Regions from separate parts of the Homo sapiens genome. Here region 1 is linked to region 2. The links come from fine-mapping of genetic effects on gene expression. A gene starts in region 2. The other region holds a variant in brackets. All regions are shown on one strand. Distances are from middle to middle.

Region 1 (8,333 bases), 34 kb after region 2:
GCATGGTGGCTCACGCCTGTAATCCCAGCACTTTGGGAGGCTGAGGTGTGTGGATCACCTGAGGTCAGGAGTTACAGGCCAGCCAGCCTGGCCAACATGGTGAAATCCCATCTCTACTAAAAATACAAAAATTAGCTGGGCATGGTGTTAGGCACCTGTAGTCCCAGCTACTAGGGAGGCTAAGGCAGGAGAATCACTTGAACCCAGGAGGTAGAGATTGCAGTGAGCCGAGATCGCACCACTGCACTCCAACCTGGGTGGCAGAGCGAGACTCCGTCTCAAAAAAAAAAAAACAAAACAAAAAACCCCAAAACTCTGTTGGGGTCGGGTGCAGTGGCTCACACCTGTAATTCTAGCACTTTGGGAGGCCAAGGTGGGTGGACCCTGTCTCTACCAAAAATACAAAAATTAGCCAGGTGTGGTGGCATACACCTGCAGTCCCAGCAACTTGGGAGGCTGAGATGGGAGAATTGCTTGAGCCCAAGAGGTCTAGGCTACAGTAAGCCATGATGGTGCCATTGCAAACCAGCCTGGGTGACAGAGTGAGACCCTTTCTCAAAGAAAATAACATTTAAAAAAGACTTACTGGACGTTTAATAAGGATATTATTAACTAATAATCATTGAGCTTACCACGTACCCACTAAAGGCTTCATGAACATTAATTTAATTAACCCTCCATTTTATGAAGTAGGCTTTGTGATTGGGCATGTCTTGGAGATGAGGTTAAGTAACTTGGAAAAGGTGGGACACCTGGTGATTGGCAGAGTGAGGCTTCAAACCCAGGCAGTCTAGGTCCACACTGCCTGTCCACAGAGTCTGGGTCTCTCCTGCTTTGGCTTATGACGTCAGCACCTACTGGGAAAATTACAGAAACCATTTTCAAAGGTGATATTTTGAAAAGCATATGGTGGGGCTCATTTTGTTTAAATGAGCTCTGCACAATGAAAGCACGTGAGAGCAGTTTTTGAAAAAGTTCTGATTGCATCCATTGAATTTGACTTTTTTTTTTTTTCTTTTTTAGACAGTCTTGCTCTGTCGCCCAGGCTGGAGTACAATGGCACGATCTTGGCTCACAGCAGCCTCTGCCTCCTGGGTTCAAGTGATTTTTGTGCCTCAGTCACCCAAGTAGCTGGGATTACAGGCATGCAACACCATGCCTAGCTAACTTTTGCATATTTTTTTAGTAGAGACGGGGTTTCGCCTTGTTGCCCAAGCCGGTCTCGAACTCTGGGCTTCCAGCAATCTGCCCACCTCAGACTCCCAAAGTGCTGGGATTACAGGCATGAGCCATCACACTGGCCTGAATTTGACCCTTACTCTAATGATTTATAGCCATATAATTCTCATGCAATAAGCTAAAAATACACCTAAAAATGATTTACTCTCAAAGGGTTTTAACTTTTTTTCATTGAATCTCTTTTATGTTCACTTAAATTTTGGCTCTGTTCATAAATTGATACAAAGACAAAATTTCCACTAAAATATTAATCTTAAGTAGTAGACGTTTTCTAACTATACCTTCCAATTGGAATTAAGCATTTAATCTAAAATTATATATCAAAAATACAAGAAAGAACTTCCTTAATTGCCTGGATATGTTTCTGCCTCTCAAGGCCTCAGAAAGTTTTGTACAAACTGTTAGAATAGCCCTAATCATGGAGATAGGTGTTTTATTTTTTCTCTCCAAAAGCATAAGAGAGGTTGGGTGCAGCAGCTCACGCCTGTAATCCCAGCACTTTGGGAGGCCAGGGTGGGAGGATGGCTTGAGGCCAGGAGTTTGAGACCAGCCTGAGCAGCACAGGGAGACCCTGTCTCTACATACAAACATACATACATACATACATACATACATACATACATACATACATACATACATACATAACTGAGGTGGTGGCAGGCACCCTGTAGTCCCAGCTACTTGTGGAAGCTGAGGATCATTGCACCACTGCACTCCAGCCTGGGCAACAGAGTGAGACTCTGCCTCAAGAAAATAAATAAAATTTATAATGTTCCCCCTTCACTCCCCTCTCTGCAACCAAAAAAACATCCTTTAGTAACTCTTATGTAACCATTAAAACTATATTATAGAAGAATATATCTTGACAAAAAAAATGTATACCACATGTTGCAGAAAACTCTGCTTATGAAACAGCATGTATAATAACAAGGCCAATTTGTAAACACACACAGAGAGAGACATATTTACAGTTAGTATAAGGTTAAGTACTTAACGCTGTATGTACTAAAACACAAGTCCTTTTACTGTGCATGTAAAAATACTCTAATAGCGATTACATTTTGAAGATGGGATAAAGTTTTTATTCCTGAGAACCAGAAGTGTGTCTCAATGCACCTAATATTTTTGCCAGTGGAGAGATACTGAAACCCTGTGATCTTCAGCTACTGTGTGCATTCAGACTGTTTGGTCTTCTTGGGTCAAGTCAGCTGGTGATTACTAAATGATGAGAGTGTGCCTGACATGCAGGAGACAGGTGAGAAGACAAAGAAATAGAAGGCAATGTCCTAGCATTGGCAGACAGACAGACCCTCTGTATATATTTCAACTTATTTGGATCACAGTCTGTTTAGGAAGGCAGATGTACATGCAAAATACAGTAGAATGCTACAGAAAAAGAACAAATATTCCAGTGCTGGAATATAGTATTATAGTAACTATAGTATAGAAAATCACTATGTGCTAAGAAATTTAGAAACACTCCAGCAAAAGGCAGGGACTTTGAGAGCTAATAGTTGGGTTGATGAAAAAGGAAGACGGAGTTTCCTTTCATGGTGGTAGCACCAGAATACTCATGATGTCTTATATGCTAACCATGAGGGCTGACCATGCTGAGATTAACAGGCAGTGTTCATTGCCTTCTGGCAGCAAGGGCAAAAGTGGAAACACAAGAATTTTTTCTTTTTTTTGAGACGGAGTTTCACTGTCACCAGGCTGGAGTGCAGTGGCGCGATCTCGGCTCATTTACAACCCCTCCTCCCGGGTTCAAGCGATTCTCCTGCCTTAGCCCTTCTAGTAGCTGGGACTACAGGGCGCGTACCACCACACCCAGGTAATTTTTATATTTTTAGTAGAGATGGGGTTTCACGGTTGTTGGCCGGGATGGTCTCGATCTCTTGACCTCGTGATCCACCTGCCTTGGCCTCCCAAAGTGCTGGGATTACAGGCGTGAGCCACCGCGCCTGGCTGAAACACAAGAATTTAAGAGAATTCTTGTTATCTGAAAAGAAAGGTGATGTCTCATTATTGCTCAAGTAAGTTAAGAACAAACCAAGGTCCTAGCCCAAAGACAACAACATTTGAAGGAAAATCAGGGATATAATGTCAAAGAACACTGCAGTCCAGGGGCGAAATGAATGTGCCTTGAGCAACTTCTCTAGGATCTCACTTGATAGCAGGCTGGGATTTATAGTACCCAGGGGAAGGCTGACAGTATCTTTCCTCCAGATCAGCTCTGAGCTGGGCTTTTGTTGATAAGCTGTCCCAGGAGTGCTGAGGCTCTGTCACTGACAGAGGAGGCAGATGTATTGAAAGCAGGATCGTGGGTTGATAATTTGTTAGGGATGTAGAGAAGCCTAACTGGTTTTCTTA[C/T]GTGGAAAAGACCACCCTCTTTTCCCACTTCCCAGATGTGCTAAACTCTTCTGGCAGAGGATATAGGATTGTCCTTGGGGAATTAGCCTTGGGTTCACTCCAATGCATGGGTAAATGTTTGGTTTTGCAAGGCAGGTGTTACCTGGCCAGCTCCACATACTTTATTACAAAAATCCTCCTGTTAGTTCTGACAGGAATGCATCATAATTGTTATTTTATAGTTGAGGAAGCTGACTCTCAAAGAAGTGATTAACTCATCTCTGTGTGTGATTCAGATGAGATTAGAACCGCCCAGCTCCTGAGACCATGCTACTTCCTGCCTACCACAGCCACATGTGCTACAGAGAACAAAGCTGAAGTGCAGGCTGCTGTGTCTCTGAGCTAGACAACCTGAGCTCATCCCTCCTGTTTCTTGCAGTGCTATTAAAATGGAGGATTTGATGAGCAGCAGTAGCTGAGAGGAGAATCAGCCTGGCCTGACTAAGGTTTATGTGGGGTTTGAGGAATAAAGTTGGGTTGTGAGGGTCGATTGGAAGCTTGGAAGCCAGGCTAAGGAGTTGGAGTAGGTCTGCTAGACAGGAAGGAACCACAAAATCAGGAACATAATGGTGGAAGGGCCTCCTGTAAATTGTCGATACTTAACTATTTTGGCCTATGAATGGCAATAGCACATGGTTCCACTAAACAGGTGCCCTGGTATTGTTTTCTGTGAGAGGATAATGGAGAGGGTTGCTTATAGTTTGTAGATATCTAGCAAATGGTCTGTTTTGCTAGTCCAGCTAGTCAGAAACCAGTCCTCTTTTTGAAGAATAGAGATCAAACCTGCTCTACAAGCTTATATGTTTACCACAATTTGGGTGGCATGATAAAGACTAAATGCACAGAAAGGCCACATACCACATTACATTCAGGAAATCCTTTCTTAGTTGGGTGTGGTGGGGTGCACGTGTAGTCCCAGCTCCTCGAGAGGTTGAGGTGGGAGGATTGCTTGAGCCTGGGGGGCAGAGGTTGTAGTGAGCTGTGATTGTGCTACTGCACTCCAACCTGGGCAACAGAGTGAGACTCTGTCTCAAAAAAAAGAAATTCCCCAAAACAAGAAATTCTTTCATCAGAAATAAATGAGCAGCCTACCAACCCACCTGCCTTCCAACCTGAGTGTTTTTTTTTTTTTCTTTTTTTTTTTTTTTTTGAGACAGGGTCCCACTTTCACCCAGGCTGGAGTGCAGTGGCGTGATCATGGCTCATTGTAGCCTTGACCTCCCTGGGCTCAAGCGGTCCTCCCACCTCATCCTCCTGAGTAGCTGGGACTACAGGTGCATGCCACCACACCGGGCTAATTTTTCTATTTTTTGTAGAGATGGGCTTTCGCCACGTTGCCTCAGCTTGTTTCTGCCTTGGCTTCCCAAAGTGCTGGGATTACAGGCATGAGCCACCTCACCCGGCTGTGCTTGCTTTCTTGTGACAAATGTTCATGGCATCTTGTGGCAGACTTATGAAAGCTGAGTTAGGTCAAAGTGTTTCCTTAGTGCCTAGCTCAGAATACTCATGCTATACAAACCGTTTTACTTTTTCCTTTCCTAGGGTGGCCTTGGCTTCATCTTCCCTCACCTTAACTTGTCATCAGGGCAGCAGTGTATCAAACTCTGGGACCTGTGGATTCAGACACAGTTTCAATTCTGCCTTTGCTACTTAATGACTTGGTGAACTTGAGCACATTCATTAACCTCCCTAGGCCCCCATTTCTAAGTGTGAAATTGAGATAATCAAATTAGGCTGTAGTAATAATTAAACTAGTTAAGGTGTGTCAATGGCTTACAAAATGTCCAGCACTTTCTAGGCTCTCCATGAAAAGTAGCTTTTACTGGCATGACTCTCAGCAGATATTTTAGTATTATTTTGCTTTCAACTGAGTAATGAATTCCTAGCCAACATTTTTGAACTTCTCATTACACATTCAGAAATGTCATGTCACAACCAGGGCTAAGAACTTTTCATTGCTCCCAAATTGCCTGTCACTATGACTCAGATTTACCCACCTGATAAGGAAGATTCCTTGACCTTAACTCACCATTCGATCTTACAGTTAGTTCTCCCATTGCTCTATAAGTATCTTATGACCCTGGCAAATTAAACCACTGGAATATCTCTCTTCTTTCTCTATTTCTGAAACTTAGAAAGCCCAACTCAGTGCTGCCACCTTCATACAACCTTTTAAGGTTTTGAACTTTTAATCTTAAACTCTTCCATTTTTGCTTTTCATTTGGCAGTGGTAGATTTTCTCATATTAAAGTCAGTTGTGACTTGTATATCACCCTTCTAGCATTTTATACTCATTGATGATAAGACTTGGCCTTCATCCCAGTCTGCTACACTATGCGGTCAGTCCATAACTGTTAAATTTCAGTGACTCAGTTTGATGAATATTTATTGAGGAGCCTGTATTTGCCAGACTCTGTTCCAGGCACAAGGCCGCTGTTCTCAGAGACCGTTCATACCACTAGGACACAAACACTAAACATGTAAACAAGTATATAGACAAAATAACATTAGATGTTGCTAACTGCTATAAAGAAAATAGTGTGATAGGAGGTGACTTGGGGCCAGAGGGAGCTGTTTTAGCTAGGGGGTCAGGGAAAGCCTTACTAAAGGATTGGCATCTGACCTAGTAGCAAATGAGAAGACCATGTTAGCCCTGGGCCCATCTAGGAGAAGAGAGATCCAGATAGGACACAACAAATACAAAGCCCCCTCAGGTGAACTGTGTATGGCTTCGCACCCAAGTAGGCTTCTGCTTTCTGTTTTGTGTCTGAATACCTCAGATATTGATTGCACATTTGAATTGTAGTTTGGAGTTCATATATTCTCAGTGTGATTCTGTACTATTTTTATCTAAATGATTGGGTCTTTCTTCATTCACAGGGACTGATTTTCCCCTACATAGTCTTGGACACAGACCATTTAGTTCAAACCCCAGCTGCACCACTGACTATCTGGGTGACCTCAAGTAAATTGTTCACTCCTGAAGACTCAGTTTTCTCTTCATCAATGAGTGTCCCAATAACTGCTTTGCAGAGTTGTGAAAATCTAATTAAATAATGTCTATTAACTAGTATGTAGTAGAAGCTCAGTAAACAGTGGAATTTATTATGTTGCATATCACATTTGTGTACCTTAAAATTTGGCGTACTTCAGCACATTCATTAACCTCCTGTAGGGAGGCAGGAGGAAAATGGCAACTTTAATTTTCTGGGGAAAACAGTCATCCAAAATATCTATATATTCAGGCCTGGCACAGTTGTTCACACCTGTAATCCCAGCACTTTGGGAGGCTGAGGTGGGTGGGATTGCATGAGCCTAGGAGTTGGAGACTAGCTTGGGCAACATAGCAAAACCCTGTATCCAAAAAATAGAAAAAAAATTAGGCATAGTGGCATGTGCCTGTAGTCTCAACAACTCAGAAGGCTGAGGTGGGAGGATCACCTGAGCCTGAAGAGCTCAAGGCTACAGTGAGCTGTGATTGCGCCACTGCACTCCAGCCTGGGCAACACATTGAGACCCTGTCTCAAAAAATAAAATAAACCCACAACCCACAAGATGTCTATATTCAGCAAAATGGTTCAGCACAGCCTCTTGAAATCACTACATTAAAGTTTTACTGAGTCTGACTAAAATTAAGAAAAAATTTTGGTTGTCTGTTACCTTTATAATTAATTTTACTATGGGTAATCTTTCAATCATTTGCTCAGTTTTCTACTGTTAGCATTCTTTTAGTTTATTTTTTAACTTTAGATTAAAACAATTATAAACTAGGCATGGTATAAAATTTAAAATGTTCCACAAGGGTATGCAGTGAAAAAGTATTTTATATAAAGGACTACATCCCTTTCCCCAACCACACAATTCTCCTCCCTGCGGATAGCCAGTGTGCTCTTCAGAGATGTTTTGTGTGCACAAAAGCAATTACAAATAATGAGATTCTCATTATTCCAGGTAGATATGTTCTGTAAAGTCACCGCAAACACTGAACTTGTGAATATGGAACCCTTGCACTTAGGGAAATACAGCGTTAGTTTCCTGAGAGCTTTTGGTTACAATATTTCTGATCAACACATAACCTAGTTTTGTGTGTGTTTCTGCTTAAAATACCTTATTTAACATATATTGTTGATTCCTTAACATGGAACTCACAGCCAACAGCACTAACTCATGCCTGAATGAAGCTTATCTAACATACGTAGTTTCTCTGTAAGACCTGTTGAAGCCTTCTCGTTCTTAGGAACATGAGATAGCAGTAAGCTTGGGAGCCATTTTAAACCGTGAAATTGCCAACACAAAGCACAAAAATTGGAAAGACATGGAACTAAATAAGACTGCAAAAGAGACACCTATTTTGCAGTATGAGAGCTGAACAGGAGGCAGTGTGTCACCTTGCTCCACCTCAGCTGGGGATGTGCAGGTCAGGCAACTCCAATTTTTCATCCCTCTGTGCATGTTTGAAAATGACCATGAAAGTGCCATCAGTATAGACTTGGGGTTAAATTTTCATAAGTAGGAGAATTTGCAAATACAGAATCAGTGAATGAGGATTGACTATATATTTTTTTCCTTTAAGAACACAAATGCTAGTATATAATACATAGCATTTTGTATCTTACTCTATGGACTTAACAGTGCATCTTGAAGATATTTTATACATACACAGACATATTTCATTTGAGTAAACT
Region 2 (8,333 bases):
TGTACACTGGTCTTCCTCAGCCCTAAAATAGACATAGCTCCAGGAGAAAACCTGCCCCTCCAAACCCTAAATACTCAAATCCCACACAGCAGGCGCCAGGCCATACAACTTATCCCACTATTTGTAGACCTAGGCATCACAGTGGCCGCAGGTACAGGGGTAGCAGGAATCGCAACCTCCTCTTATTACCATAAAACCTTATCAAAAGACCTTTCAGATGGTATAGACAACCTTGCAACTTCCATATCCCCTTACAAGCTCAGCTGGACTCCCTAGCGGCAGTCGCCTTACAAAATCAGAGAGGTCTCAACCTACTTACCACCGACAAAGGAGGATTCTGCATTTTCCTAGATGAAGAATGCTGCTTTTATTTTAACCAGTCAGGCTTAGTTCAGGATGCAGTAAAAAACAAACAAACAAACAAACAAAATCTCAAAGATCGAGCCCAAAAGATCAGGGAAAGCAGCTCCTCTACGTGGCCCTCTTGATCTCTCAGCACCTGGGCCGCCTGGCTACCCTCTCTCCTTGGACCTGCTGTAATCCTTTTTCTCCTCCTAATCTTAGGTCCTTGCCTAATACTCCTCTTCACCCAGTTTTTGCAGAATCGTATCCATGCCTTTGCCCATGGAACCATACAGGTCATGATGTTACTCCAGGAGTATCAACACTTTCAAAACCAAAGCCAACCTCCACTTTCCAGCCTTTCCCCTAGCCCCTGCCCACTCTCAGCCTGAAGCAGTCTGATGAAATCAATGCCCCTTCTCTATCATCTGTTAAAAGGCTGGAATGTTAGGGTCCACCCAACTGGACTGTTTCCCGCTCCCATAGACCTAAGCCCCAAAGCCCCACCTGTAACTGTCGGACCCGAGGCCAGCTGTTCCAGGATGCGGTCAAGAAGTCTACCTTACACAACAGAACTGGCAAGAAAAACAACTCCAGGAAGCGGTCAGACACCTGGCACAAAGGATCCCCTACTCCCTGGCCTTTTCTTTTTCCTTCACCCTGACCCAGTTATATGCCCTATAAAACCTTGCTATATAGCCTGTAAGCGGGGCTGCCTCCTCTGCTTTTGTCAAGAGGTAGCCCACCAGGACTGACAATGAATCACATTGACTTGAGTCTATTGACCTCATTCCTTTCTTGGCTGTCCTTCCAATTATCCCTTAAACTATTATTTTCAGTGTTTTATTATAAACAGTGCTGAATATATTTGTGGGGGTTTTCTTTGTTGGTGTTGTCATTTTTTGAGACAAGGTCTCACTCTGTCATTCGGGCTGGAGTGCAGTGGCGCAATCATGGCTCACTCCAGCCTTGACCTCCCCAGGCTCAGGTGATCTTCCCACTTCAGCCTGCTGAGTAGCTGGGAATATAGACACATGCCACCATGCTCAGCTAATGTTTTTGTATTTTTTTTTTTTGTAGACACAGGTTTTCACCATCTTGCCCAGGCTGGGCTTGAACTCCTGGGCTCCAGCAATCAGCCCACCTCGCCCTCCCAAAGTGCTGGGATTACAAGCATAATGCCAGCCCAATGCTGAATATCTTAGACATATATCCGGAATGTTTCGGTGAGTATATCCATAGCAGTGAATTTACTAGGAATTATCATGCTATTATTCGGTTTAACATTCTTTTATCCTCCTCCACTCCACTGCAGTTGAGAATAAAATCTAAACACCTTATCTTGATTTACCTGTGGCCAAGATCTGACCCCTGCCTGTCTCTTCAACCTGTTTCTTTCAATTACTCCTTACTGATGGCCTGAAGCCACACCAGCCTTTTGTCCTCAATCCCGCAAATTTATTCTTTTCCTAGGAGCCTTTGTACTTGCTCATTCTTCTTTGTAACACTTCTGCAAGAGGTGGCTGGCTCTTTGCCAGCGGGGTCTCAACTCAAAGTCCTTCTCCCTGAGGCCTTCCAGGTTTAAATGAGCACTCCCAGGCCTTCATGTCATGCTGTTAAATTGTAATCCTAGCATTTCATTCTCTAAGAAATTATTTTGTCTTCCCTTCTGGAATGTAAGCTCCAAGTGCGCAAGAGCCCTGTTTGTCTCATTTGTGAGTCCCAAGAGCTCAGATGAGTATGTACTCAAAATATATCTGGTAGGCCAAGTGCGATGGCTCACGCCTATAATCCTAGCACTTTGGGAGACTGAGGCAGGCAGATCACCTGATGTCAGGGGTTCAAGACCGTCCTGGCCAACATGGTGAAACCCTGTCTGTACTAAAAATACAAAAATTAGCTGGGCATGGTGGCACATTCCTGTAATCCCAGCTACTTGGAAGGCTGAGACAGGAGACTCACTTGATCCCAGGAGGCAAAGGTTGCAGTGAGCCGAGATCGCGCCACTGCACTCCAGCCTGGGCAACAGAGGGAGACATCATCTCAAAAAAAAAAATAATTCTGGTGAATTAATGGTGTGGATTTAAAATTGTGATATATGCTGGGTGCCTATAGTCCTAGCGTGGAAAACATAACAAGTCCCCATCTCTAAAAAATAAATGAAATTATCATATAGGCTGCCAAATTGCTTTCCATACAGAGTCACCAGTTTTCAAAGTCACTGACAGTGCTTGTTTGTTTTTGAGATAAGGTCTCACTCTGTCACCCAAGCCGGACTGCAGTGGTGTGATCATGGCTCACTGCAGCCTTGACCTCCCAGGCTCAAGCTATCCTCCCATCTCAGCCTCCAGAGTAACTGGGATTACAGGCATGTACCACCACACCTGGCTAATTTTTAATTTTTTGTAGAGATGGAGCCTCACTATGTTGCCCAGTCTGGTCTCTAGCAATTGTCTTGCCTCAGCCACCCAAAGTGGATTTTCTGTCTTGATTCCTTTCTCACTTCTTACCTTAATTTATTTGATGAATCATTCACTTTACAAATATTTATTGATTATTCACAGGCTCAGGCACCGTGCTAAAATGGTTCTTTCTTATCTGGCCACACCTATCTTCCAGCCCAATCTTGCCAAGAGTTTTGGCCTGGGCCTTACTTCAAAGTGACGTAGACTTGTACTGTAGAGGTCTCTAGAAAGACAACCCTTGGCTGGGCATGGTGGCTCATGCCTGTAATCCCAGAACTTTGGGAGGCTGAGACAGGTGGATCACAGCCAGCCTGGCCAACATGGTGAAACCCCATCTCTACTAAAAACACAAAAATTAGGCGGGCGTGGTGGTGCTTGCCTATAATCCCAGCTACTGGGGAGGCTGAGGCAAGAGAACCATTTGAACCTGGGAGGCGGAGGTTGCAGTGAGCCGAGTTTGCACCACTGCACTCCAGCCTGGGCAACAGGGCGAGACTCCTCCATCTCAAAAAAAAAAAGAAAAAGAAAAAAGAAAGACAACCCTTAATGGGGGAGATGAGGACAGTCCCTACACAGAATCTTTGGCAGTGTCAATGTATACATTAATTTGCTAATCAACTAGGCTAGCCCTTTAATCTATATATTGTACTGGATTTTAAAAATTATTTCTTTACTTTCTCATTAGACCTTCCTCTTTTTTTTTTTTGTTTGTTTGTTTGGAGACAGAGTCTCCCTCTGTCGCCCAGGCTGGAGTGCAGTGGCAGAATTTTGGCTCACTGCAACCTCTACCTCACGGGTTCAAGCGATTCTCCTGCCTCAGCCTCCTGAGTAGCTGAGGTTACAGGTGCCCGCCACCACGCCTGCCTGATTTTTATATTTTTAGTAGAGACGGAGTTTCACCATGTTGGCCAGGCTGTTTTGAACTCCTGACCTCAGGTGATCCGCCCACCTCGGCCTCCCAAAGTGCTGGGATTACTTCTGTGAGCCACCACCGCGGCCGGTCCCTTCCTCCTTTAAAAATTTTTCTCCCAGTTCCCACTTTTTGTGGGTTAGAGGCATCTAAATTGAATGAAAGTACCCTTTTTGGACTACTGGGGAGGTGGGGGGATGTTCTCAGAAGGGGAATTTTCTTTCTGGTCCTAATATCCACCTAATTTTTAAAAGCAGGGCTCCTTATTATTTTGTAAAGTTTACAATTACATCATTAGATACTTCCATGTCTCATATTTCATTTTTCCAAACTCTTGGGGGAAATGAGTGGAGGGATGGATGGAATAGAAAATAGTTTTTCCTCTTGGAGGCTGAGGGCCCAGTAGGGGTCAACAGTACATTCAGCCCTCTCCTCACATATTCTGTTCTACCTACAAGTACAGCAAGTAAAGCCAAATTTCTCATGCATGCAAATAAAGTTTTTGCATTTGGCCAGTCGGTCCAGTTCTCCTGTCAGCTTCCTTCCCCACTCTGCCTCTGTTCATTAATCCCCCCCTTCCCGGTACCTAAACCCTCCACCTAACCCAGCCCTTTCTTCCACTTCCGGCTACTAGCCTCTCTCGCCTATCCACTATCCTCACACTCAGCATCCCCTGTCTGTACGAGATTAAGGAGCTCTGCCGTCCGCAGGGCCTGGGTTAGCGTGAATCTAAGCCAGAGCTCCCGGGTGGGGGTGGGGGTAGGGGTGGGGGTGGTCCCAGAGGTAGGGCGAGGAGGTGGGAAGCGTATTCCCTTCACTGGTGATCTCAACGTAGATTTGCCCGGAGTTCTCTTGCAAGAGAGCTGGCAGGTTTTACTATTTCCCAATCGTTTACTCGCCAAGCTCTCGGGTCCACGCGCCGCGGGGATGCGCCCTGCAAGCTGAAACTTCATTCAAAGCAAGGCGGCCCACGAGGTTGGGCTTAGGGGATCTGGATGACCTCCAGGCCACTTCCTTTCTCTCTGCGCCCTTCCCCCACTCTTCCAACCACCTTCGCTGTAAACAAAACTGTCCCCCCCGGGCGGAGAGAGGTCGCGCTCTTTCGCACACTCCCTCGCCAAGGGTTAATTTCTCAAATCGCACGAGGGGGAGGAGATTTCCCTGTAGACGAGTAAAAAGGGTGATGGACAAACGTGCGGGCACTAAGACCGCAAGGCATTCATTTCCTCCTACGGTGGATGCGGACGCCGGGAGGAGGAGAGCCCCAGAGAGAGGAGCTGGGAGCGGAGGCGCAGGCAATGCTCAGCCCTGGATGTAGCTGAGAGGCTGGGAGAAGAGACGACCGCTGGAGACCGAGCGGCGTGGGGAAGACCTAGGGGGGTGGGTGGGGGAAGCAGACAGGAGAACACTCGAAATCAAGCGCTTTACAGATTATTTTATTTTGTATAGAGAACACGTAGCGACTCCGAAGATCAGCCCCAATGAACATGTCAGTGTTGACTTTACAAGAATATGAATTCGAAAAGCAGTTCAACGAGAATGAAGCCATCCAATGGATGCAGGAAAACTGGTACGTGATGCTTTCGCCTGATACTGTTCCCGGGAGCCCTGCGCGTCTTCCCGGAGTGCCTTAATGTCGGTATTCCCTGCCTGGGCGTGAATGGAGCGATGAATCGCGGGCAGCCAGCTGATCGCTGAGTTCTCGGGTCTCCCGGGTGCAGGAGACGCTGGGGGGGGGGGGGTACATGAAGCGCGAGGTCTGTGGGTGCCCCTGTGTGAACCGCGGCTACATAGGCATCTTTTATATAGATTATATAACACAGAACATATGTGTGTGCACAGGGTGATGTCTGCGCGACAGGGAAGGCGGGAGAGATGCCACAGTCCAGATCGCCTACCTGTGCTCCCCTCCCCTCCCCCGGTTTTCATCTAGATTTGGGTTTTCTCGCTTGGCCTCTCCCGCAACCGGAGTGTGAAAGGCAGTGGAGGGAGGACCTTGTCTCCTGTTGCCTTTAACCCTCTCCCGCCCGCCGCCCTTGGCCCTGGTCCTCGCTGTCTCTCCATCCCTCGTGTCCTTCCTTTCTCCTTGCAGCGCTCCTACTTCACCGTCCTCCTCTGTCTGCCGCTCCTCAGGCGGATGCCCCCTTTTTAGTACCCCTTTCCCCACGCGGTTCCCTTTCCGGTTTCATAGAGAGACCGGGTGGGAGGGAGGAGGGGACAATGAAAACAGTAATAAATGAATGAACCCGAGCGAGTGGAGCCACGCCATTATTAAGTTTCTGTTTTACGGAAACGCCTTTTGGACACACTTCTAATTCTGTGCGTAGCTGCTGATTGGAGTTCAGGCACACAGATTAAAAGCCCCTCCGTCTGCAGAGTCCTTAGGGGCTCTTCCCTAGGAAACTAATAATCAGGGAAAACACCTTTCTTGTTTACTGTAGTCCCCCCGCCAGACCTTTTGAAAATCCCTGTGTGGGAGGCGATCCAGTGTCACCTTGCAATATTTAACAGAGGAGGGTGTGCTCATCTCGCTTCTTGTAGACAGGGTTGTGGCAGAGGCATTCCTCTCCTCCCCTTAACTTCGGGTCTGGCGATCTGTAAAGTTCAAGCCCAACGCACCCCGGAGCTAGGCAAGGGGCCGGCAGCCCGGGGGATGGCTTGACCGGGGAGGGTCGGGCCGCAGGGTCTCCCGGGAGCCGGGGGATTCCGCCCGCCGCGTGCGCGAGCGCGCGTGCCCCGCGCCCTCCCGCCTGCCCTCTTCAACTGGAAACCAGAAACGCCGGCGCGCCTGTGGCCTGGGCGGGTTGGTGCAGTAGGAGCTGGTGCCACGGGGCCGCAGCTGCGAAAAGGGGGTTTCAACTTCCTGTCCTCCAGCCCCCTGGAGTCGCCGGCCAGTGTCGGGAGGCCCGGCCGCCGCTTCCTTCTCCTCCCGCCCGGCCGGAGCGCGCCCACTCCCAGCTTCCCGCGGGCTGGTCCGGGCCCCAATGGCCATTTGCGGCGGCTGCCGGGCGGAGCCCGCCTCCTGGGCCGCGCGCACCGGCGGGGCAGGCCTGCTTGGGGTGAGCTGCGGCGTGGCTGGTGGCGGCGGTGGGCTAGGGGCCCAAGGGCCGCGTCTGGCCCGAGCCGGAGCCTAAGAGGCGGGGACGCGGGCCGCTCGGAAGGACTGGAAGTGCAGCAGCCACACAGGCACAGGGCTGGTGCCCTCCCGGGCCGCTGAGGCCAGGGGGTGCAGGGGTGGGTCCGGAAGGAGGTTGGACACTAAGGGTCGAGACCGCAGATAGACCTCGGCGTTTCGGGGCAGCCGAGGCCCCTCGAGCCCCACCGCCCGGGGTCCTTCTCTGGATGCACTTCCTCCTCCCGCTTAGGGGGTGGTGCTGGAGGCGGGGAGGGGGCGGTGGCCGGAGCCGGCGGGCGCCGGAACCGCGCTGCTGGCTAGCCCCGGGCCCGGGTCTTCTCCGCACATGTTTGTCATATCCTCCAGCCGGCCTGTTCGGGCCCACAGTCCTCCCGCATTAGCCTGTGTGGTCAGTGTGGTCAGCATTTGCTTCTGTGCCGAATCTCTGACTTGCTGCGTCCTGGTTTAACCTGCTCTTCCGGAGTCCGCTTTCCCTCGCTTTGCTGGCTGACCCCATTCACTGTACGCCCGCCATTCCTAGCCCACTGCAGTCGATACTGCCTCTTATTTACTTGTTGCTTTTTCTCTGAGGCCACTTCCTAGGCCTGCTTCAGGTACCATTTCCCGCCTCTTCTCTCCATTCACTCAGTACTGAGCCAGACAGGTCTCAGCCCTCGTGGGACTGAAAATGACAAAAATGTGCCAACGTATCTACTCCTGTTAGGTTCTGACCACTGTTTCCTCCTAGTTCTTTATCTGTACCTTTCTTCTGGCAATATCCTTTACTGTTATATACATGGTTATTAACTTACAGACCATCAGCTCTTCAGGTTACGGTTCTTGTCATCCCACTCTTGATTCTGCAAAGCACCTAGCAGAGTGCTTTGCATAAGGCACATTCTTGAGAAAATGTCCAGTGAGTTGAAATGGTGATTGGTGCCCATTTTATTGCCAGCACTACTCGTTAATACCCGAAGGTTAACAGGCTAGAACTTGCATACCGTGGCAGAGTCACATCTTGGGATTTTTCCCTTCCTGGCTTCTGCTCTCTGTTGATGTTATGTTCTTAGATTGCTTATTGCAGTCAAAGAACCCTGCTGGCTGTTACCCCTCCCTTGCAACTCTTCCTGACCCTAATTGTCTTACTTTCATGTTTTTTTTTAAATGCCAGATTTTGTGCATTTCTCCCAATATCCCAGGGTGCCCAATTTTATCTCTCCTCCCTCCCCAAAAACTGTACAGCCAAAAAGACTTTAAACACTTTTTAAAATTTAATTTTATTAGCCGGGTGTGGTGGCTCCTGCCTGTAATCCCAGCACTTTGGGAGGCTGAGGTGGGTGGATTACCTGACGACAGGAGTTCGAGACCAGCCAGGCCAATATGGTGAAACCCCATCTCTACTAAAAATACAAAAAAATTAGCCGAGCGTGGTGGCGGGTGCCTGTAATCCCAGCTACTCGGGAGGTTGAGGCAGGAGAATTGCTTGAACCCGGGAGGTTCA

Which allele goes with the higher level. Positions count from the first base shown, and alleles are read on the strand shown. Sizes are in standard deviations (SD) of each study's normalised expression.
In carriers of allele T in region 1, the expression in fibroblasts of the gene that starts at base 4,919 in region 2 tends to be higher than with C alone (large effect, 0.79 SD a copy in GTEx).

The links.
Region 1: its variant is fine-mapped to the expression of ELOVL6 in fibroblasts (GTEx, PIP 0.97).

Annotation. Positions count from the first base shown.
Region 1 is chr4:110,161,204-110,169,536 of GRCh38, reverse strand. The region is part of intron 1 of ELOVL6 (ELOVL fatty acid elongase 6); the gene reads left to right. Among named protein-coding and RNA genes, the nearest start is that of ELOVL6, 33 kb to the left of the region's middle. The variant C/T (reference allele first, on the strand shown) is at 3,610.
Region 2 is chr4:110,195,201-110,203,533 of GRCh38, reverse strand. It overlaps ELOVL6 (ELOVL fatty acid elongase 6), which reads left to right and starts at 4,919. Exons shown (of 4, transcript NM_024090.3): 1 at 4,919-5,287. The coding sequence starts at 5,199. RefSeq lists enhancers at 4,546-5,338, 6,927-7,221 and silencers at 6,253-6,882, 7,083-7,192.